3 linked regions of the Homo sapiens genome follow. The gene in region 2 interacts genetically with the main gene of each other region. Each region holds a gene or a part of one and is shown on either strand. Other genes may lie near its edges.

The links. Genes that interact genetically often act in the same process or in processes that back each other up.
Region 1: changes in FBXW7 (region 2) and POLR2K are lethal when combined (synthetic lethality), as found in Homo sapiens cells (one study listed by BioGRID).
Region 3: changes in FBXW7 (region 2) and SPAG11B are lethal when combined (synthetic lethality), as found in Homo sapiens cells (one study listed by BioGRID).

Annotation. Positions count from the first base shown.
Region 1 is NC_000008.11:100,145,687-100,154,636, reverse strand, and holds POLR2K (DNA-directed RNA polymerases I, II, and III subunit RPABC4), read right to left. Parts: upstream 4,002-8,950; 5' UTR 3,928-4,001; intron 3,291-3,927; 5' UTR 3,282-3,290; coding exon 3,221-3,281; intron 2,814-3,220; coding exon 2,721-2,813; intron 1,344-2,720; coding exon 1,321-1,343; 3' UTR 634-1,320; downstream 1-633. UniProt on the Homo sapiens protein: DNA-dependent RNA polymerase catalyzes the transcription of DNA into RNA using the four ribonucleoside triphosphates as substrates.
Region 2 is NC_000004.12:152,319,029-152,324,168, forward strand, and holds the end of FBXW7 (F-box/WD repeat-containing protein 7), read right to left. Parts: intron 4,122-5,140; coding exon 3,853-4,121; 3' UTR 1,516-3,852; downstream 1-1,515. UniProt on the Homo sapiens protein: Substrate recognition component of a SCF (SKP1-CUL1-F-box protein) E3 ubiquitin-protein ligase complex which mediates the ubiquitination and subsequent proteasomal degradation of target proteins.
Region 3 is NC_000008.11:7,459,542-7,468,511, forward strand, and holds the start of SPAG11B (sperm-associated antigen 11B isoform D preproprotein), read right to left. Parts: upstream 4,002-8,970; 5' UTR 3,963-4,001; coding exon 3,902-3,962; intron 3,319-3,901; coding exon 3,166-3,318; intron 1,994-3,165; coding exon of another isoform or gene 1,866-1,993; exon of another isoform or gene 1,724-1,865; intron 1-1,723. UniProt on the Homo sapiens protein: Has antimicrobial activity against E.coli. Plays a role in the defense response in the male reproductive tract, contributing to sperm maturation, storage and protection.

The sequences.
Region 1 (8,950 bases), on a different chromosome or scaffold from region 2:
GTCAAAGACAGACATAACTATTAATAAAGTTGGAATACATCTAATCTTTAAAATGCACATCAGGCTGGCCAACATGACATTCCACAACCATGGAATCCTTGAACAGAATAGCGTATAAGTGTGACCATTAATTCTACATCCCAAAGATCAAGGCTGAAGACTTAAACATTTATCCAATAATTCAGTGTAAACCAACGCTCCCCTCCCCAGCCCTTGACTCAGGGTGTTGCACTGTCCATCAGGCTGGAGTGCAGCAGCATGATTATGGCTCACTGCAGCCTCAAACTCTTGGGTTCAAGTGATCCTCCCATCTCAGCCTCCCGAGTCACTGCCTGTTCTTTTTATATCCTAAAAGCAGAACTGTTGACCTTAATGAGTGATTACACCTTGGAAACTGCACTTGGCTTAACAGCCTGCTTCATTCACTTTGCTTGGGGTTGATTTTGCCTTACAGAAAACAATTAAAGTTTCCCTTCATTATTCTGAGATTTAAAAGAGAACCAAGCATTATATGAAAATACAGAAAGGCCTATACCTAGTAATAAATGAAAAACTGAACTCAAGATGACATATGCATACTGACACCAAGCACAATGGTATACTTCATATCAAATGACACAGTGACACAGGACAGTGGTTTGCAATAAATTTATTTAATCAGAACTTCAGAGGGTTCTAGAAACCTGCATTTTTAACAAGGACTGCAGATGATTCTAGGTTTTGATTAAAAGTGTGGTTTGGGGAAGCAACTTTACCCTTTATTGTGTGTTAAATTACATATACAATAAAACAAAAAGTCACGTAATGGAACAAAAAATTGCTTTATACAAAATATTAGTAGATACCCAAATATAATATGGTCTTAAAAATAAAATCATATGTATATAGTTGTATTCCTAAGTACAGTAGTGCCCCCCTCATCCAAAGTTTCCCTTTCTGTGGTTTTGGTTACCTGTAGTCAACCACATTCTAAAATAGGTGAGTACTGTACAAGAAGATATTTTGAAAGCAAGAGAGACCAACCACATTCACATAACTTTTATTATAGTATGTTATCATTGTTCTATTACATTATTATTAATCTCTTGCTATGCTTAATTTATACATTATACTTTATCATAGGTATATATATATGGAAAAAACAGTGTATAAAGGTTTGGTACTGTTTGAGGTTTCAGGAGTTCACTGGGGGCCTTGGAATGTATCTCCCGAAGATAAGGGGGAACTACTGTAAGCAAAATCGAAAGCTATACAACAATCAGAAATGGGAAGAGAGCAAATCCAAGTATAAGTGAAGACATTCCTCTGAATTCCCAGCATTCATCGAGCATCAAAAACGACCACTGTATTAATTTGAGTTAAGGACAAAAACGGTACTTAAACATTATTAAGACTGAAGGTTTCAAAGTCACTTTCTCTTTGCAATAAGCTGGTTTGTTATTTAACTTAAAATGCAAAAAAGAATGGAATTCACTATTTACTATGACAACTGGTTTTTAAATAAACTAAAAACACTTTCAATTTTTATTACCACCTTTTCCATAAAATGTATCAAAAAACACTAAAGCAGGCCAGGCGCAGTGGCTCACGCCTGTAATCCCAGTACTTTGGGAGGCTGAGGTGGGCGGATCACGAGGTCAGGAGATCGAGACCATCCTGGCTAACATGGTGAAACCCCATCTTTACTAAAAAATAAAAAAAATTAGCCGGGCATGGTGGCGGGTGCCTGTAGTCCCAGCTACTCAGGAGGCTGAGGCAGGAGAATGCCATGAACCCGGAAGGCAGAGCTTGCAATGTGAGCCGAGATTGCGTCACTGCACACCAGCCTGGGTGACAGAGCGAGACTCCGTCTCAAAAAAAAACAAAAAACAAACAAAAAAAAACACTAAAGTAATGTTAAAGCGGATAATCCGTCGATTTACAATGTGTGTTAGTTGTATCATAACAATTTACTCTGTATTTTATTTTTCCACATGGGGGTCACACTATGTTGCCCAGGCTGGTCTTGAACTCCTGCAGCCTCCCAAAGTGCTGGGATTATAGGTGTGAGCAACCATGCTGGGCCTACTCTCAGTATTTGAACAATTTGTATGCCCAACTTTTTCCATTAGGTAGTATACACAATATTTGTATTTCTCCTCGTGAACTTTAGCTTGTCCATAAACTGAAGCTCAAGAATGAATACTTATATAAATGTAGTCATGCACCCATAATGACGTTTTGGTCAAAGATGGAGCACATATAAACAGTGGTCGCATAAGATTATACTCTATTTTTGCTGTACCTTTTCTATGTTCAGATATACAAAAACATTGTGTTACAATTGTCTATTCAGTACAATAGCATGCTGTACAGGTGTGTAGCCTAGCAGCAATAAGCTATACCATATAGCCTAGATGTGTATGTATAGTAGGATATACGGTCTAGGTTTCTGTAGGAATGATGAAATTGCTTAAGGACACAATTCTCAGAATGTATCCCTATCCTCAAGCTTGACTGCACAGAATCCCTAAAAAATAAATTTATGAGAACCAAAATCAACTAGCATTATTTAGATTATTTAGAGCCTATGCATTGGTCCATGAAAATGCTAATCATGTTTGTTTTTTAAGTACTGTAATCCAGAAAGTTATCATTTTAACCAGAAATTAATCTTTATCAACCCCAGCATTATTCATTTCCTCCTAACTCATATTTAGAAAGCATCGTTAAAAGGATACATCTTTTAGTCCTTTTCTTGTACATTATTCTGTATCCACATTCTCTGCATCTGATTGGATCCCTAGATTTTATTTCATTTTCTGTGTGACACTCTAGAATTAAAAAAAAAAATTTACTCAATGCCTAAGAGGAAAATATTACAGACAAATTATCTTAAATGTATTATTTACCTAAGGCAATCCAAAACACTAAAATATACTCAATCTCAAGGGTCTGCTGCTTTTATTAAATATATTAAATAGGAAAGAAAAAGGTTGTAGGCCATGCATATTTCCAGGAGAGAGAATGAAATCTCAACGAGCTTTGTTTTTTTCTGTTAGTAAACAGAAGACCAAGGACGAACCCAGGTCTACTGACCTCAACGATTTTTTTTATGGTTGCTAAAGTGTTCTACTTTATAACTCTGAAGACCAGTAACTCATTTAAGCAAAGAATAAATGTAACAATTTCAAAAAAACTTAAATAAAATATTCTTACTTTAGGTAAGTGCTACTCTTACCTCCACAGATATATATCATTGGTTGCTGCTTTGGAGGTTGAACGTCCTTCTGGGTGTCCATTGTTAGCCCCTGAAATCACAGACTCAAATACTGAATATCTCAAAAGGGCTTCTCACAAGTCCATCCGGGCCCATTTTTCTCAGGAAAAGCTACAAAGATCCAATTCCTAATCTGTTCCTTTCCCCAAATCCTATGGGTTAGGTCTCAAGGACGAAACGCATACACACAAGTATTGAGCGTTTACCCCAAACTGGACATAATAACTACTTCATACGTGTTAGGCCATTATAATCTTCATAACAATCCTAGGAGACATCACTCTTGTTTTACAGAGGACGCAACCGATACTTAGACATGTTAATTTCCGCAGGATCACTCAGCTACTAAAAGTCAAAGGGATACAGATCTGACTGTAAAGCTCGCGTTCTCGTTTAACACAAGTTCTATTTTCCCAAACTCTAGCAGAAGTTAGCCAAAAAAAATTATATCCCTCAACAGGGGAACAGGCTCACCGAGGGAAGAACAATGAAATAACTCCTACTGGCTAAACATCTAAACTAAAAGAAAATAGGGAAAAGAGCGATAGCATGGACCGTATCCCCAGCCACTCTCAACTCTACCCCCATACCGGACCTTTTTACCCCAAGTGTCTTTCCAGTTTTGGCCCAAATATCCACCACAAACCCCAACCCGCCAATTCGCTTACCTACACAGCACGGAAAAACTCACTCCGCGTTTCCAAATACAACCCGGCTAGTCCAGGTGTCGAGACCAACTTCCGGCGCTGGTACATGACGCACAGTGCTGTCTCTCTTTCTCTCTCTCTTACTCCCCGCCCCTTCCGCCCCAGGCGTGGCCAGACAACCCGGATGGCGCAAAGGCGGTAAAGCAGGGGCTTTCTGTCTATTAGATTCTACGGGTTTAAGTGCCTGGTCCCCAGCTATTTTAATTTTGCAGGAAAGCAGAGCATTTTAACAGTTATGCAAGTACAAGGCGGTGTGTGTTTCTGACTAATGTAGTGGTACAAAGTAACACTTTTCCAGAAGGGTAGAGGGTTAGAAGAAAAACCGAGATGACAGTGTCCGAGAAGTACTAGGATAGCCGTTACTCGGACGAACATAGAAGAATCGACTACACCAATGATTTTCACGTAGAAAAACACTTTTCCAGATTGTTTTTAAAAATTGTTTGATATCTGTACTGGGGCAGTGGGGCAGCTGCCTCCTACCTTTCTCTTGATTTTGTTTTTGCTTTCTGGCCCCTTCTCTGATAGGCTACTGTCACATCCCTCGCCCAATCCGTTTACTTGTTTTAAAGCAAAGGTTAGTGTGACGGTAGCTACATGAACAACTCCCTCTTAAATCTAAGAGATTTTGGTAGCTTTCGCTGTCTACTCACCCGCCCTCCGTTCTATGTATTCCACCATAGAAGAACAAAACGCCCTGCTCAGTGGAGGTGCGTTCTTTCAAGTATCAGAATTTCAGTATGATGGATCAGTTGGGTTCAGAACGTTTACATTTGTTTCCTTTTTTTCCAGAAGATATTTTACTTAGTAGGGTGAAGAAAATGAAGCTATTTTAAAAAATTTAAAAATAACTTAATTGTTAATAACTATTTTAAAGTTAGTGAAAGAAGTAGGCGTTCTTTCTCCCAACACGCACTATGTCTGATATTTTATTAAGCAGGTTATACTCCTTTCGGGCCCTCCATCCAGAAATCTGAGAACTTTGAGCTTCACCTTTCACTTCCAGAAGTTCAAACTCCTTCTGTTGCATCTCCCCAGACCAGCTTGAGAGATTTAAGTTGATCTTTCCAGGAAGATGCCATTTAAAAACCCTTCAGGAAAACGCAGCAGTTCCTGGCTTCTTTCTTCACAGACAGGCTAACAGAGCATAAATATTTTAACCATTAGCCCTGTTACAAAGTACCTCTCCTCTTAACCAAAGAGGTGATCTAATACAAGAGGCACAATAGGCTTCCCTGTAAGAACTATTAGATGGAACCATTGTTATCCTAAGCGAAAGATGACAGAGTGATCCCAAAAGTCAAACTTTCATATTTACAAGCTCTCTTGTATATTAACTCTCCAGTTGAAATATCAAGATAATTCTCGTGCAGAACAATTTATGGAGATCAGAATGGATCAACATATGTAGAATACAAATGGGTCCTGGGGCCCTACAAAAGGGCAAAGTAATGACAAGTCATAGCAAGAAGATCCAGAATTTCAACAAGAATTCATGTTGGTGCTAGTTCCCAATCCAACACGCTCTTTCCTATCAACAGAGACTGGTAGTTCTAGGATCACTTGGGAGTTTGGTCAGTGTAAGCTACACTATTATCAATGATAGCATTAACTTTTTCTGAGCATGTACTACATGCCAGACATCATTGCATTGCTCTGTTTTAATGGGGGTAGTTGTCTTGCCATCCTGGAAAACAATGCTTTTAACTCTTTATTAAGAAGGTTATGGAGATGCAAGTTGCTATTTTTTCCCTGAATCTCTGTCTTTCCTTTTTCCTTGATTATATTCACTTAAATATATCCAGATAGCTTGAATATCATGGTAATTTGGGAAATCTCCCATTACGTTTTATTGGATGGTCCCAAAAAGAAGCATCAGATTTTGTGGCAAGCAGGTGGGTTTTAGAGTTCTGAAATTAGTGATGGGATGACACCCAATGCAAGAAAGGAAAGCAAAGGGCTGGGCACCGTGGCTCACGCCTGTAATCCCAGCATTTTGGGAGGCTGAGGCGGGCAGATTGCTTGAGGTCAGGAGTTCAAGACCATCCTGGCTAACATGATGAAACCCCGTCTCTACTAAAAATACAAAAAATTAGCCAGACATGGTGGCATGCACCTGTAATCTCAGCTACTTGGAAGGCTGAGGTGCAAGAATCGCTTGAACCCGGGAGGCGAAGGTTGCAGTGAGCTGAAATTGCCCCACTTCACTTCAGCTTGGGTGACAAAGTGAGACTCTGTCTCAAAAAAAAGGGAAGCAAAAAGGCAAAAGACTGTAAAGAATATGAAATTACAGCTCAGTGGCTTCAATCTGGAGTATGTAAGTAAAGCTCAGGCAAACTACATATAACTAGGTGTCTTTTTGCCCGTTTTTAGGTGGGGAGAGGTGACAATGATTCTTCCTTGAACAATATAAAGGAGATATGATATAGTCTTTCACTCCTCAGACATAATAAAATATCTCAAGAAAAATAAATTAACTGGAGAAAAAAGAAAAGGGCAATGTTTAAATGGTTTTGGGGTTATGTGGATTCTACTTAACCATTGGCAAAATTCCCTGCCCTGTTTACATTGGGATGGAGATGGGGAGCAGACATTAAACAAAAATGAGTAGATAATATGGGATTTTAGAAGGTAGTAAACTACACAGAGAAAATTCAGTAGAATTCTGCAGGAGAATTGCAAATGTGGGGCAGGAAAGGGTAAAATGGCTGTAATAGAGATTTGTTTGAAGAGCTAGAGAGGGTACTATTCACTCTACCAGGGAGTGTGGGGGTAGGCTTCAGAGAGGTGCTGTCTTGAAGAATGTGTAATTCATTAATTCTTTACAGTCCTACAGGTACCTCAAACTTAACAACCTCACACTAAATGCATCTTATTTTCTCCCAAGCCTATACTCTTCATTCCCTCACTCCTTGCCCCATGCAGTTGATTCTGCCAACTGAACATGTCACATCTTGGTTCTGCTCCACCCCCCACTGCCTTCTGGAGAAATGCAGTAGCTTCCTACTGGTCTCCTAGCAGCCACCCTTGCCTCTCTTCATTCTGTCCTCCATTCTGCCACCAGAGTGGACTTTCTAAAATGCTCTTCAAACTCTGAAGGTGCAACCAGAACTTCCCAAGACTTAGCTTCTTCACTTCTCAGGAATTTTCTCTAATCCTTTCCTCTAACAACTCTTAGTTTCTGCCTATAACAAATTATTTGCAGCTTCTCCATGTGCCCAACTGCTCTTGCACATTTTGTTTTGAGTTTGAAATTTTCCTGCCCTTATACATTTTAAGTTTGGAATTTCCTGCTGTCTGCCTTTTAAATTGCCACTTGTACATCAAAATCTATCTCATGCACTCTGTTCTCCAGTAGAGTTAGCTGGTTCTTCTTTCCTTTGTGCTGCTACTGTTCCTCTGTTACAGCACTTGCTCTATACCAATGAGCTCCTTAACAGCAGTAACTGTGGCTGTGTCAGCTCTGTATTCCCAGTACCTAGCACAGTAATTGGCACATAGTTGGAATTTAATAACTGTTAGTGGACGGGCACAGTGGCTCATGCCTGTAATCTCAGCACTTTGGGAGGCTGAGGCAGGTGGATCACCTGAGGTCAGGAGTTCGAGACCAGCCTGGCCAACCTGGCAAAACTCCGTCTCTACTGAAAATACAAAAATTAGCTAGGCGTGGTGGCGGGTGCCTGTCATCCCAGCTACTCGGGAGGCTGAGGCAGGAGAATCGTTTGAACCTGGGAGGTGGAGGTTGCAGTGAGCCAAGATTGCACCACGGCACTCCAGCGTGCGTGACAGAGCGAGACCCTGTCTCATAATAATTTTAGTGAGTTTGGTTTTGGATGACTGAGGGACATCCAGTTGGAGAAATGTCCAGTCAGAGAAGAGTGGTGGTAGTGCCTGTTATTGGCTTAAAAGTGATGGTTGAAGTTCTGAATAAGAATTACATAAGCATGGGATGATAAACTAATAAAAATGCTGAGGTAGGACCTCTCATTTAGGGAGTAGGCCAAGGAAAAGAAGCCAGAAAAAGGAGACTAGGAAGAAGCTGCCAAGAGCAGCAGGAGTGTCCCTGGCATATAATAGACGCCCAGTAAATATTTATTGAATGAAAAAATTAGGGTTTAAAAAATTTATTTGGCTTTGAGGGTACTTGGGAGTTCATGATGCCCAAAAATGGATGTTTGTAAACAATGAACACATTTCACTCTGGTTTTTATGAATAGATTTTTTAAAAATCTTTTTTTTGAGATGGGGGTCTCACTATGTTGCCCAGGCTGGTCTCAAATTCCTTGGCTCAAGTGATCCTCCCACCTCTGTGCTGGGATTACAGATGTGAGCCACCAGGCCCGGCTCAGCTTTTTTATCACAAAATCTGTATATATTCATTGTTGAAACATGAGAAGAAAACACAGATAAAAAGAACTAAAAAGCAAACATAATCCTGTACAAATTTACCGTATCCAAGTTATTCATACCTTTCAGACCTCATCCTGTGTATATCCATATTTTTAACCTAAAAGGGGTCAGTTTGTAACTTGCTTTTTGCACTTGACAGTTTGGAGAATCATTTCCAAGGGAACATTCTCATACATGATTTCTAATGGCATCCCACTGTAGGCCACGTTAGCATTCCTAAATACGGTAATGCTTCCCAAAGTGGGAATGGGGAGAAGCAGAGCCTTTCTGACCCGCCTCGGGACGGGTGCAGGGGTGAGCGAGAGAGGGGGCGCTCCTCCCGCTCAAGCGAGGACCCAGGCCTGCGGGCGGCCGGGCGGGAGCGCTGCAGAGCCGGAGGAAGGGGCGGGACAGCGCGGCGCGGGGCGGGGCTGCGCTTAGCGGTTACCCCGGGCGGGCCGTTCAAACCTAAGGAGGTAAAGGCAGCGGCCCCACGCGAAGCTGGCGTGGGGGTTGCCATAGCCCGCATCCCAGGGGGCGAGGCCGAGGCTTCTCCCCGGCCCATCCAGCGGCTGCTGCCCGGCTCCTCTCCCAC
Region 2 (5,140 bases):
ATTGTAATAAAGATTATTCATTTATTCATAAAATGATGTTTAATGAACACCTAAACACAGTCATCCCTCCATTATTTGTGGGTTCTGCATCCACAGATCTAACCAAACGAGAATCAAAAATATTTGAAAAGGGTGGCTATGTCTGTATCGAACATGTACAGACTTTTTCCCTTGTCATGATTCCCTAAACAATACAGTATAATAACTATTTACATAGCATTTACATTGTCTTAGGTATTATAAGTAATCTAGGTATGATTTAAAGCATACGGGAGGGCTTGTATATGTTACATGCAAATACTATGCCATTTTATATCAGTGACTTGAGCATCCATGAATTTTGATATCCATGGGGGTGAGGTTGGGGAGATCCTAAAACCAATCCCGCCCAAATACTGAAGGATGACTGTATATACAAAACCACTGTTAGGTGCTCAATATCAGTCTGTCTCACAAGGTTTCTGTAAAACTCAAATGAGAATCTAGATGGCTCCACGTAAAAGAATGGACTGCTGTGTGTGTGTGTGCACACGTGTGTATGTGTATGCTATTTTTATTACATAATCTGAGTAACAAATACATTCAATTCTCTAATATAGAAAGTTATCTGGGTCTATTTACTTAAAATTTTTAATAGAAGCTACCATTTACTGAGCTCTAAATGCCATCGGTATGCAATGTGCTTTACGTTTCACCTAATCTTTATAATAACCTTAGGAGATGGGTATCCTCTACATCTTAAATGAGGAAACACGAGGTCAAGAAACATGATAAAGGTCCCAGTAACTAGACCATACTAGAACTGAGATGAATTCAGGGCTATTTGTCTGCAAAGCCTGTGAACTCATTCTATTCTCTAAAGTTCTAAAAATGGATGTTTCTCTTCAATTATATTCTAGTTAAGCCTCATTTATATGCTCTTATGAAAAATCAAGCAGTTTCAAGAACTATCAAATAGAATTACAACTTTTTCTTGACAATTCACAGTCATCAATGTGAACAGTAGTCACGGTTTGGGCAGTAACGTGGTTTACTCTAAAGACCCTGCACTTCACGGCCTAGTAGGATTTTTGCCTTGCATTCAACCAGGTAGTTTTTTGTTTTTTTCCTTTACCCTGTCACTTTTCCTTGCTATTTTTGTGTCTGTAATTTGCTGTGGACTAATAAACCAAATAACCAAATGTACAGGAATGGTATCTAAAGCAATGGTTCTGAAACTTTAGTATCCACAACTCACCTGGTGAGCTAGTTTAAATGCAGGTTCTTGGGTCACACTCCCAGGTGTTCTGATTTAGTAGCTTTGGGAGAATGAGGCCCAGGATTTGCCCTATGAGTAAAGAACACATACTTTATGACTATGAGAAAAAGGGGAGTCCATTTTCAGTAGCTTTTATATTTTCATCTACGGCCTGGTTAGTTGAGATTACTGGATGTGTGTATATATATATGTGTGTGTATATATATATATATATATATATATCTCCTGCTATTTGAGATACTAAATATATTTAGAACTAGTTTCAAAAACAACTTTATTTTTTCCCCTTACATCATAAAATTTAGATTTTATAAAATTTAGATTTGTTGAACAAAACGGCTACAGAACAGTCAGAAAGTACCAGAAAAATGGCTTATTTCCCTCTCAAACCTTGCTTTAGTCTGTCAAACTTTCTTAAAGAGCAGCATGTATTTAGTCTTTGGAAATATGGGTTTGAGTTCTGGCATTCCGCTAGTTCTATGATTTGACAAATTGCCTAACCAGTCTCAGCTGCAGATTTTTGCTCGTCTTTAAGATGGGAGATAATAGTGCCTACTTCTCAGGGATAGTGGGAGCTTAAGAGAGAATGAACAGAAAGTATCGAGGGTAAGCACTTAATATGTGGTCAAAATTTCAAAATGAATTTGTTATTTATAAGGCTTCTAGTTGTAATTATCACAAAAGTTTTGTGGATTCTTTGAGGGAACCAGATTTCATATTTATACACCCCAATGCAATCTACAGAGATGAGCACAGTGGAGTGTCCTCCTTCATAGTCTAGGAGAGAAATAAAATTTGCAGTTGCAGCACATTATCCTTACTTTCGCGGTATAAAACAGGCTTGAAGTATTGATTTCTATGTCACACAGCAGGATGCAAAGAAACCAAGATTTTGCTTATTTAAATATTATAGACAAATCCTAAATACTTATAATGAAGGATTATTACTTCAGTGGAAGAAACAGGCATACTAACATGAAAAAACACATTTTATTGCACTTAAGTTATAAGAAAATAAAATTTCTAAGTGAATCAAACCATAGACACAATCCCTTTAAAGGTTGTTTTCCTCCATCATGTCAGGTTGTTACATAACTAAAATTAACCAACTTGAATCTGATTGTTTTAAATCAGACTATAAATAAAACAAACAAAAAAATAAACAGAAGGAGGAAAAAAGATCGCCTAGGATACAGTGTTAAACCACTTTCACAGTTCAGCTTGAGTTGTGGCTCTTGGAGAATGAGGCAAACCATTTGACTGTTTCATTCATTTTGTTTGTTTGCATGTGACGCCTTTACTACAAAAACTGAATAGTTTCTGCTTTGTCAGTTACTCAGAGCAATAAAACTGTAACAGTTGTTTTCCCAAATACTGTAAAACACTAAGACTGACCAGCAACTTTATTTTAATTTTGTGTTTTATATATTTTTAAAATATTTTGTCAGTTTTACGATGTACGTTCATCCATTCACCACAGCCCTCAAAAAGAAAAGTTTCTCCACAGAACAGGCAAGTAATAGCTCTGTTCCAAGGAATGTGTTTTAATTTTTGCCCAGATAAAAGAAAATAAGCTTTGCACACACTCTCAATTCTTTACTTGCAGGCAAACTTCACTCTTTATTATCTGAAACTCTTCCATTCTCAGCCTCTTAGAGGCACAGATGGCTCAAGTTTCAGTGGCAAAAAGTCTTTTTTCCATAACCAAACTAGAGCAAATTTGGAATTCAGTCTGGGACTAAAACGTCACAGCAGAAAAAAAATAAAAAAAAATAATTTGCTTTTTTCTTTCTTTCATTTAGCAGCATAAATAAGTTTGGCCACTGGGAGTACAGTACAGGGTTGGGACAACAATCCCATATTTGAAGACCTACTTCTAGCACCAGCATCAAGAATTAAATCCATCTCAGGACTCACAGAACCCAGGACAACTTGCCACCTTTGAGCAACATATGCATTGAAGAATGTATATGGAAGCAACAGTAAATAGATTAACAGAGGCTAATACTGTGATTGATTGACATTGGCAATGGTTGGCAAAAAAAAAAAAAAAAAAGCTTTTCATGATAACTGTACAAAAACAATTCACAGTAATTTTTTTAAGCTTTTCCACTCCAGAAAAATGACTTTTTGTTGCAGATGCTCTCTAATTAGAAAGTCAACCAGTACTTGTTTTGATATTATTGCAGTTCCTTTCTAGGTGTCTAGCTGTCAGTGGTAAAAGAACAGGCTAGCAGAATCTGTAATGATGTTTCAGCATTAACACTGCCCAATGACCACTGGAGAAGAAAATAAAGAAATAATTGCACCTGGTTTGATTTAGAAAGTCTCATTTTGCAAAGCTGCCCTCAGTCAAAAGTGAAGCCTTTTATGTGATGAGACAGCAGACGCCTCTCTTGTCAGTTATGGTTTGTCATCTCTTCTTCTTTTCCTTCTTAGTCTGTAGGTCTTTTCAATCTGTTGCCCCAAGCCAACATCCTGCACCACTGAGAACAAGGGATTTTTTTCTTTTTCTTTTCTTTTTTTCTTTTTGCAGGGGGAAGGGCAGGGAGTATATCGTCTACACAATTGGACAAATTCATCTTTTCTGCTCTTCACTTCATGTCCACATCAAAGTCCAGCACCAGCAGCTTGGTTTCTTCAGTCCCATTCCGACTCCCAACTGCACACACCAGCTTTGTGTTTGAGGCTCTGATCCGCCACACAACTCCCCCACTCCCCCCACTCTCCAATGTGACTAGGTTTCGAATAAATTCACCCGTTTTCAAGTCCCATAGTTTTACAGTTCCATCATCTGAGCTGGTAATTACAAAGTTCTTGTTGAACTGTAAACAGGTCACAGCACTCTGATGCTTGTTGGGACCTAGACAAAAACCAAAAGAATTTAATTACTGGTTAGAAATAATGGCTATGAGTTAGTTACATTATAATTTGTAGACTTCTACTTTAGAACATACAATAAATGCAACATTTGAAATGATACATATTTAGAAACCCATGTCCTCAGTATTTTAGGATCAGCATGGATGTAAGAAAATCTGGTAGTGATTTGTAACTGAAACATTAACTTTCAAGAGGTCTGTCTTCCAAGAAGCTTGGTTAGCTACCAGACAAACATCTTATTTTCTGGCTGTGTGAACGACAGCATTCCTTGGTGAGGATGTAGATAGTGCAACTTCATACCTTCTGCTGATGGACAAATGAGCACTAAGAGATCTATTACCCCACCACCATGAACCACTCAAAGCTGAACAGTCACTATTCCAAAACTCTGAGGAGAGACAAAACCAATGAGTAAAAAGCTGCAATGTTGCCTATCAGATGGCCCCACTGAAAAAAACACTTTCTAAGGGCTATAACAAATAGAAAAAGTTAATCATGAGGCACTGCTGTACCTCATCTAATATTAGTGATTTTCACTTGTTTCTTTCTCTACTTTAGTAGGCACTATTATTCCTCTCCATTCCAGTTAAGCACGTGACTAAGTGGAGGCCAAATAAATTTTCTATCAAGGATGCTGTTGTTTTTTTCAATAAGGTAGCCCTTTAAAATTGGACTACAAATTCAAAATGCAATGGTCAATCAAAAAATATAATGAGTACGTTGCTTCTATGATATAGCCAAGATCTTTCTTCTCACTGTTCTTAAAGGTTAAGTAGAGTCAATTGAACATGCAGGAAGTGATTAAACAATTTTATATTACATATTAAAAACACAGTTTAAAACATTTCCTCAAGAGTAGACTAGTTCTGTAAGTCAGGGTGAAAATATTCATAAACTTTTCTGAAGTAACCATTCTGTATGAGGTTGACTCTTTTTGTGATGCTAAGGCTCCATATTTCTCTTGAATAATGATCTCATTTTTAATGAACAAAACGAAAG
Region 3 (8,970 bases), on a different chromosome or scaffold from region 2:
ACAATCCCTATCCCAGACATAACACCTTACAATTAATTGGTAAGGAAGTCCCAACTCCTAGCTTCTCCCTGAGGAGTGAAGGGTTTGGACCACACATATAGTACCCTGACCTTTATGCTTCCCACCCAGGGGTTTGGCTCCTAAATCACCCAGCTCAGGGTTGATAGAGCTGGGCATCTGCAGGTCTCCCTAAACCACAGACACCAAAGAGATGGTGGGACACAGATTTGCAAGCACTTTTGGCAGCTCTCTCCCTGGGCTCAGGCCAGAGCAGGCAGGTAAATGCCCACCTCCCGGTTTCTACCTGCAAGGGGTTTATCTACCCATTTTCCCATCTGCTGCCTGAGGGTTGACTTCTGGGTCTGTATCTGGGAGCCAAAGGGGCAGGGTGAACAGTAGACCTGTGGGAGCCTGAACAGAGGTATAGGTAGGCACTGCACCTGCTCCTCTCGACTAGCTCCAGCAAGAAATCCAGGTCTCCAGCTTCTCCCTTGAAGGAGAATACTTCAAGCACAGTTTTATAGCTGCCACCTGGGGGACTGGCTCCTAAATCACTTATCTCTAGAAGTTAATGTGAGGCAGGAGAATTGCAGAGGAAATTGGAAGTTGGATAAAGGATAGAGTGAATAAAAGCAGAAACAGAAGCAAGGTGAAGGGGTGGGTGAGCAAGAAGCAAGATAAAAGGCAGAAGTGAAGCAGCCAAAAGAAAAAGTGAGATAAAGAAGAGAGCAAGGACCCCATGGCCAGCAAGATCCAGATCAAACCAGGAAGGGGCAGCTCTTCAGAGATAGGCATGCGCATTAAAGAGAAAAAGTATCCTTAACAGGATGCTGTATGATAATCAGCTCATTAAAGCTCATGCATATGGACTACCTATCACGCATGTAGTTAAAATTATGGGATGGAGACAATTCACAAGCCCGCACAGGCTAAAGTAACTAAGCAACACACCTATCTATCAAAAGGCAGGCACCGGCAAAAGATCAGGCAGCCTTGCGAAGAGAAGGGGAAAAAACACATAAAAAGACCCAAGGTACACCGAAGCCATGCTAATCTCATTTGGCAGAAGTCAGCCCACTCTCCCCTCTCCGGGAATGTAATACTGCGCTTCACACACTTTTGCTGCTTGCTTTGCTGTCTGAGTATCACATCCAGTTCTTTGTTCAGGACACCAAAAGCCTGGAATTGCACAGCACCATCGGGTTATAAATGGGTCTCTGCATTTTGTGTCTTCTAAGGCCACAGAGAACAAATGGGTAGTTTTAAAGGGGCACAAGAGGACTTCCAGAGGGTATTCTTCCAGGTTTAGCACAAAGAGAACAGGCAGTAACTCCCAGCTCTCAGTATCTCCCCAGAAGGCATTTGCCTGCACACTCTCTCAGCTGCTGCTAGAGAACAGGGCTTCGAACTGGCCTGCAGGTAGGAGATGATGGGGCTGATGGAGAATGGGTTTGACCACACACCTGACACCTCAACTACATTTCACAGTACTTAGAATAGAATGGACTCCATTGCACAGTACCTAGAATAGAAGTAGGTATTCAAAAAATAGTTTTTAAATAAAAGAACAAATTATTTTAATTCTTTCTAATAAAAGTTTATGATATCCACATTTACTAGCACAAATTGTGTGATTTTGAAAATTCTGTTCATGTCAAGCTAAGTCATCTTCTGTAAGATCACAGGTAGCATTTTTGTCATTTATCTTGCCACAATAAAATATTTGAACTGTCTGGCACAAGTGGCAATATCTCCGCTCCCTGCTGCTCAGACACTTCCGCAAAAAACCTGCACCTGATTGGACAACGTGGCCCCGGAGAACAGGTAAGTGGCAGAGCTTTGTTTCTATATCAGCAACATCAGTTTTAATGTAAACAGCAGGCGTCTTTCTTTTTAGAGCAGTAGCCTACTTGTGTTTCCATATAATTACAGTATTCTTGGCAGAAGCCTTCACTTCTCCTGCAGTCAACAACTTTTAAATCTGATGCAGGTTCTGCATTAAAAAAAGAAAAAATCCAACATTAGCTTCTTAAGACCATCTCCAGAATCAAACAGTGGTCATTTGAGCCGTGAGGGACAGGGTGGGGGTGGCATGGATATGAAACAGCTTTCCATAGTTAATAGCTTCAAGTTCCAAACTAAAACATCAACTCCAGATATATAGCTCTGCCCCACTAAATCTCCTTTAACCAAAGGAAGGAATAATCCTGTCTCACAGGAATACTGTTAGACTAAATAACACACGCCTACTATTGCACCTGTTTATATTTGTTGTGTAATAATTGAGTTTTCTTTTTCCCTTCCCTTGGGAGGAGATCCAGATGAATGAGTCCTTTGGAACTGTGGGCCAATTAGAAAGGGATGGGAGGTTGGGTAGGATGCTGCAGGCATCAAATTCAGCAGGACTTTATTTGCTGGATGTCACAGCAATTTGCCAACACCCTCCTGTCTTTCTTGCTCTTGCCCACTGATCTGCTAACCTAGTTCTCCCTGTCTTAGGGTCAGCAATCAGCTTGGCATTAAAGAAGCATCTTGGAAACTACAGGCTCTTCCAGGCCCTTTTGGATTTGAAGCTGGTCCTGCCCAGGGGTTTGGGGGCTGACCAGAAGCCTGGCCCTTCTGGAAGAGTCCAGAAGAGTGGCTGTGGGCTCAATTGTCCCTTGCCATGTCCTGCTACCTCCTTGCCTGAGTAGACTGACAATACAGTCTATTCTCTGCCCCCATTCTCAGGAAGCATTTCCCAGACCTCAATGGACACCTGAAACTTAGTAGGTAGGTATTCAGTAAATTCCTTGAACGGGAACGACCTCCAAAGCTAAGGGCATGGGGCTGCAACCTGGCAGGAGGCCATGTTTCCACCAGTGTCTCCTCTGGCACCTGTTCTTGGAGGAAGCCAGCAATTACAGGTGTGGCTTCAGATAAATTGCCTTTTGGCCCCTCAATACTCCCACGTTCCACAAGGCCCTCAATGATCCAGCCCCAGGGGAAGCTGTGAGACCCCGTGGTCTCCCTGACAGGCAGGGCAGCCCAATGCACCCGCACCATGTCTTCCCCAAACAATGACTGCTCACCCACCCCGACCAGCACAGACATCTTCCCGTCTATTTGTTCCCTCTACGTCTCCCCAGTGGATGCACTTGTTGCACGTGTTGGTCCCTGACTCACCTTGGTAAGGTGGGGTGCGCGGTGGTAAGAGGTCCCGTTTCACTGCGTGGCGTAGCAGCTGAAACCCGTTTGTGCCTTGCCCAGGGGCTCTTTCCCTGAGTTCTCCGAGAGCCTCAGTGGCTGAGTGGTTCACATGTCTGGCTTGAGACGATCCTGTGCAAGTGGAAACACACGTCTGAGGATGCTCTGAGGCCTCCGCCTGGCAGACCCGTCAGCATGAGGCACCTACACTCTACCAGGTGAGTGAGCATGGGTGATTGGGTGGGGGAGTTGGGAGGGGTGCTAGTGTTCCGTGTGTGTGCACGTTTGTGCACATGCGTTGTATGCACCTATGTGTAGAGAGAGAAGGTGAATGAAGTGTAAGAAATGTATGCCATGAATGGTGAGTCTGAGCACCTCCTCAAAGCCAGCACAGCCAGAGAATTTATTTCAAGTGTCACTAATGCAGTTGTTAAGATTCCCTAAAATGTAATGTTCTTCTCTGTAAGGGAAAGGGGAATGTTAAAAGGATAAGAAAATGGAGTCGGGGAGGGACACTCTTCCCTGGGAAGCAAGTGCCATCAGCCAATTCAGAGTGCCATTTATGAACCCAGTTCAGAGACTCGTACCCAAAGCTCCACCAGGAATACATGCCCCAAGGACTTCATCTCTCCCTGTCCAGCCTGGACTCCCATACCTCAGATGACCATTGCAGAGAGATTCTGGCACCCAGACCCGGGTCACCTTTCCATTTTACCTGGAAACAGCAGGGCCACAAGGAGAAGGCTGGTGACGGACGGGAGCAATCGTTGCCTCATGTCTGCCAAGAGCACTGCAAGCCAGAAAGCACCCAGGGTGGGTGGGCAGGCAGCGGGGCTCCTTTGATGGAGTGAGGCTGGGTGTGTGGGCCCGGAGCGTGGGAAGAGCTGTGCTCCAGGATGACTTCTCATTCTCAAAGGACAATGTGGACACGCTACTATCCCACTGCTGGTGGAACAAACACTTGAGACACATATTTCAGGAAGTAAATAATACGCCTGAATGCCTTGGGTGGGTTTGGTGAATAAGGAAGAACAGAGAGAAACAGAAAGATGAAAGGCATGGAGGGGCAGAACAAACATAACTATCATAAAGTTGCCAATGTCCTCAAACGCTTCTCAAAAGCCCCCTAATGTTCATGAGAACAGGGACATAAATAAACTGCCATGTCGATTCTATCCTGTTGGCTGAGCGTTTTTATTTTAGTGTTAAAAAATCATGCATAAGACACACAACATAACAGGTAGGACCTGGTTTTACAAACTATCCCTTCCTGAAGTTATACAGAGAGTTCCAAGGCTGCTCAAAATGTTCTTTTCTTTTTCTTCTCCTCTCTGAGTCTCTCTCCCTGTTTCTTGGTCCCCTCCACTTCTCCTTCCTCACTTTGGACCCCCCTCCTTTCTATTTTAACTTATTTGAGTTGTCTTGATTTTTCTCTCCCCTTTCCATTCTCTTTACCCCCAGACACCTCCTGTTGATGTCACTGGGTCCAATTCAATTCTTTTAAAAAAGAAAAAAAAAATCTGTGTTTGAGTCTGGGTTTTCTCCTCTAGTAATATCCAAGCAGAGGACTTGTCTTCCCTTCTCCTTCATCTTTTTAAGCATTTTAACCAAGTGTGTGTTTCTTACTTGGCTGCATTAGCTCAGGTATGCATGTAACCCAGACAGTCTGCTCTGGACTTAACTAAAGTGAAGAAGGCTTTGGTTGAAGAGTTTTGTATTCACATAGCATCCAATGTAACATCAGTGATGTCTGGAAAAGATAGTGCTTATCTCATATGTCTCATTTGCATGTATATTTTAATCCAGACAGAGAAAACAACTTAGGTCATTTGTGTAAATAAAAATACTTACTCTCTACCTGGAGAAAGCTGGAAGCAAATGGAGAAAGAGGCAGCAATGACAATAGAGACCTGGGCATCCGCTGAAGCACCAGCAAAGGGCGGAAGGTTTGCAGCTGCGGACAGTTGCACATAGCAGCTGCCCTGGCAGCACAATGCGGAGGCCACTATCTTTTGGGTCTCAGGACAGATTCTCCACTGCAAAGCATGAGGTGCTGGTCAGGGAGAGCAGGAGCATCATTCACATCCTTTCACTTTAAGGAATTAGGAAGTCTTCCAATTCCAAGAGCACAGGGCAACACTGCGGAGATAGGTGACAACTGGCCCATGATAAGTTTCTTTAATCACTTACTGCATCAAATTCTGATAATTGGATGTTGGAAGAACATAGACAGTCAAGAAAGGAGGTAGACAGCTGCTCTACCTCAACCCTAAATGAAGATTTATTCGCTCATCTACATACTCTGGGTATTTTTTGTACTCTAGTTCAATAGCAACTTCTTACAGTTGTATTTGTAATTATTTAAACTTGGAATGTGGATCTTTTATAACAGTGATGGAAATTTTGGAGTATATTGGTAACTTATTTCTATATATTTTTATCTTCTCTATAAAAGGAAAGAAAACAAAAACAAGCCTATTCCACCATTCAGATATTAATAGTAATGAATCATTAATCAAAATCATGACTTAAAATATAACAGCATTTGAGTAATTACCACCCAGGTAACGGAATCTTCTTTGAAGTCGTTAGAATTATTTGAAATTATTTAAATGAAGAAACTGAGCCAAAAATAGTTAGATCTCACTTCCTTTGTCTACGTCTTGAGATAAAGTAAGCCCCCTCTTCCATGCTTCTGAAAAGAACAATCTTAAAAAAGAGCAGCCGGGAAAGCCTAGTTCTGCTCTTTGACAGGCAAAAGCTGGTGAAGTCGTAATAAAGGCAATTAATGTTACATCTGTCCTAACACAACAATGCTCTCAGCTCCTGTCCTCTTCTGCCAGATTTCTGTGTCCTAAAAAAATCTTTGAATAATTCTCTTGCTAAAAGCCACATCCATCCTGAGGGGGAGGATGGCAGAACCCATTATAGAATATTCTAATAATTGTTTCAAGTTTTTTTTGGTCCATTCAATCAATAAATCATATTCTTTTTTTTTTAAGCTGCTTAGTATGTGGTATCTTGATTCGTTTGGACTAAGTAGGTGGGCTAAAGTAAAATGATCAAGATTTTATTGTCAAATAAGAAGTTCTGCAAATACATATTCCTGAAGGATCTTATTGGAAATTGCACACATGTGCAGGGGGTAAGATTTTCCACATCGGCACATCCTCCTTCTTGCTTCCCAAGTAGCATCCTGGTAAATCCTGGAAAATATGAATGCGAGAAGGAAAACCCTATTGTAGCCCAGTTTGGAATCAGAAGTTCTCTGCAGAATCAAATTTAGACTCTTCTTTTGCATTACTAAATGACCCAGTGAAAGTTTCTCTGGAGGAGACTCACAGAAGAGCGAAGCAAAGATTCCTATGCAGATTTTCTTATTCTTAAGTCTGAGATTGTAACATGCTAACCAGTCTGTAAGACCAACTAGAATGCCATTTAACAGAGGCACAGATTCCCCTCTAGGGAAAATAACTGATATATGGAAAAGACACAAATATTAGAGTCTTCTTTGGAAAAAGCAGTCAGGAAGAATTACATGATAGGAGAGAAAACTGCTTTTGGATCGTGGTTAAAGAAGTAGCTTTGAGAATTGTGCAAAAATATTCTTTGGTATTTTGTTTCTTTTTCATGCACAGAATCACAAAATGAATTGTGTTTTCAGAAGTCGATTTGATCTGTAGCCATTTCAGCCATCCCAAGAATGCTCTTAAGGCAGCATATGAAAGAACACAGGAAATCCTTTCATGAGCGCTAAGGCATAAACACCATTTAGTTTTGGCAATAAAAACATGGTATTGTTATAAGTTTAAATAAATCTGTTGAGATTGCCTATTCTTTTTCTTGAGACGGAGTCTGGCATAGTTGCCCAAGCTGGAGTGCAGCGGCGCCATCTCAGCTCACTGCAACCTCCGCCTCCCGGGTTCAAGCGACTCTCCTGCCTCAGCCTCCTGAGTAGCTGGGATTACAGGTGCCTGCCACCGCGCCCAGCTAATTTTTGTATTTTTAGTAGAGATCGGGTTTTCACCATGTTGGCCAGGCTGGTCTTGAACTCCTGACCTCAAGTGATCCTCCCGCCTCTGCCTCCCAAAGTGCTGGGATTACAGGCGTGAGCCACCCTGCCTGGCCGAGGTTGGCAATTCTGACGAAACAATCATAACATTTTGGAACTGAAAACTGTCTTAGAGACCTAACCAATATTTTAAGAAGAGGAAATGGAGGATGAGTGAAAAAGCGATGTGTCTATATGTGTTAATTAAAGACTAAAGATCTGGAGGAGGCTATGCACTGCAGACACTATTAACAGAATGGAGTCCATGTAAATAAACAAAGGGGTGCTCAAAGTTAAAGGGAAAGGCAACAGATTTGTTTGGGGAAGAGCAGGAGTTCATGGTGGTCACAGACATAAGAAGAAATGTAGTTTTTCACGGGAATAGTATCTTTTCTCCACGGTGCCATGATGCTTTTATTATTTTGGGTGTAATTTCTCATAACTGGAAAGCATTTCAGCCCCTTCCCAGTCCTCAGAGGTTGACCATTTTTTTCTCTCGGATTCAGCCACAAAGGCAGCTCTACCACTCACCATGTGTCTGTCTTTGACTTTGTCATGTTGGGAAGACTCAGGACCCCACCTATTTTTACCCACAGGGCCCTCTGTGCCTATGAAACTGAGGTCCCAGCAGTCCTTGTGGACATATCACAATCTAAAATTCAGGGATAAGAAAATCTACATAGGAATCTCTGCTTCACTCACCTGTGAGACTCTTCCAGGCTAATTTTCTTTGGGTCATGTGGTAATGCAAGAGAAAGTTGATTCTATAGCAACTTCTGAGCACAGACTTGGCTGCAATATGTTTCCCCTTTACACAGTCATATTTTCCAGGATTTAATGGGATGTCTCTTGGGAGGCAAGAAAGAGAATATGCCAGTGTGGAAAACCTTAACTCCTGCACGTTGAAAATTTCAAGTTCTGCTCTTTTGGATATTTAAATAAGGACCTGGGTGGTGATTTGCTCACCCAGAGATTTTCTCTGTCAATCTCTGTCTCTCTCTCTCAACTTCAAATAATAAAAAACGCATAAATTAAAAAGTGAAAAATATCCAAACAATCCTTCCTTCTGTTGATTTTCATTAGGCACATTTCAAAGGGTTACTGATCATTCATTATGAACTACAGACTTCAGATCTGTATCCATCCTTTGGAGATAGAAGATAAGTAGCAATGTTATTGGGTTTCTGATTGTGTTTGTAGTGCATCAGGTACAAATTATTAAATATTTCCTGCCAATTCTGGAAACAATAAAATAGAACAATCTATCTTTGTTCTTTTACTGTAAAGCCCTGAAATTAAAGTAGTGCGACTTTGTGATGTCGTTAAGTGCTGAGGATAGCAGTTCATTAATATGACTATGTGAATTACACCTGAGGGCGGGAGGGGGCGCTGTTTCAGAATCCAGCCTCTTTAGAGAGCAAAACAATAGGACACCAGGACGGCAAGCCAAACCCAGGGCTCTTCAGTGAAGACCACGATACAAGGCTTTCTACGTTATCTGACAATGAGATAGCTTTGCTTTCTGCTTGTTCTTGTCTCTCTGGCCACTACGGCGGGTGGCGTTGATTAAAGTCTGTAGAAGTCCCTTGCTTTGCTCTATATTTACATTGGGAGGTACAAGATGGCCTCCTTGGCAAGGCATCAAATTACATTTTAAAAGGAGACAAAAAATAATTGTAGCACAGGGTCAGCAGTTGGATCTCTGTTTGTAAGTGTTGTTGGGCAGAATGGCC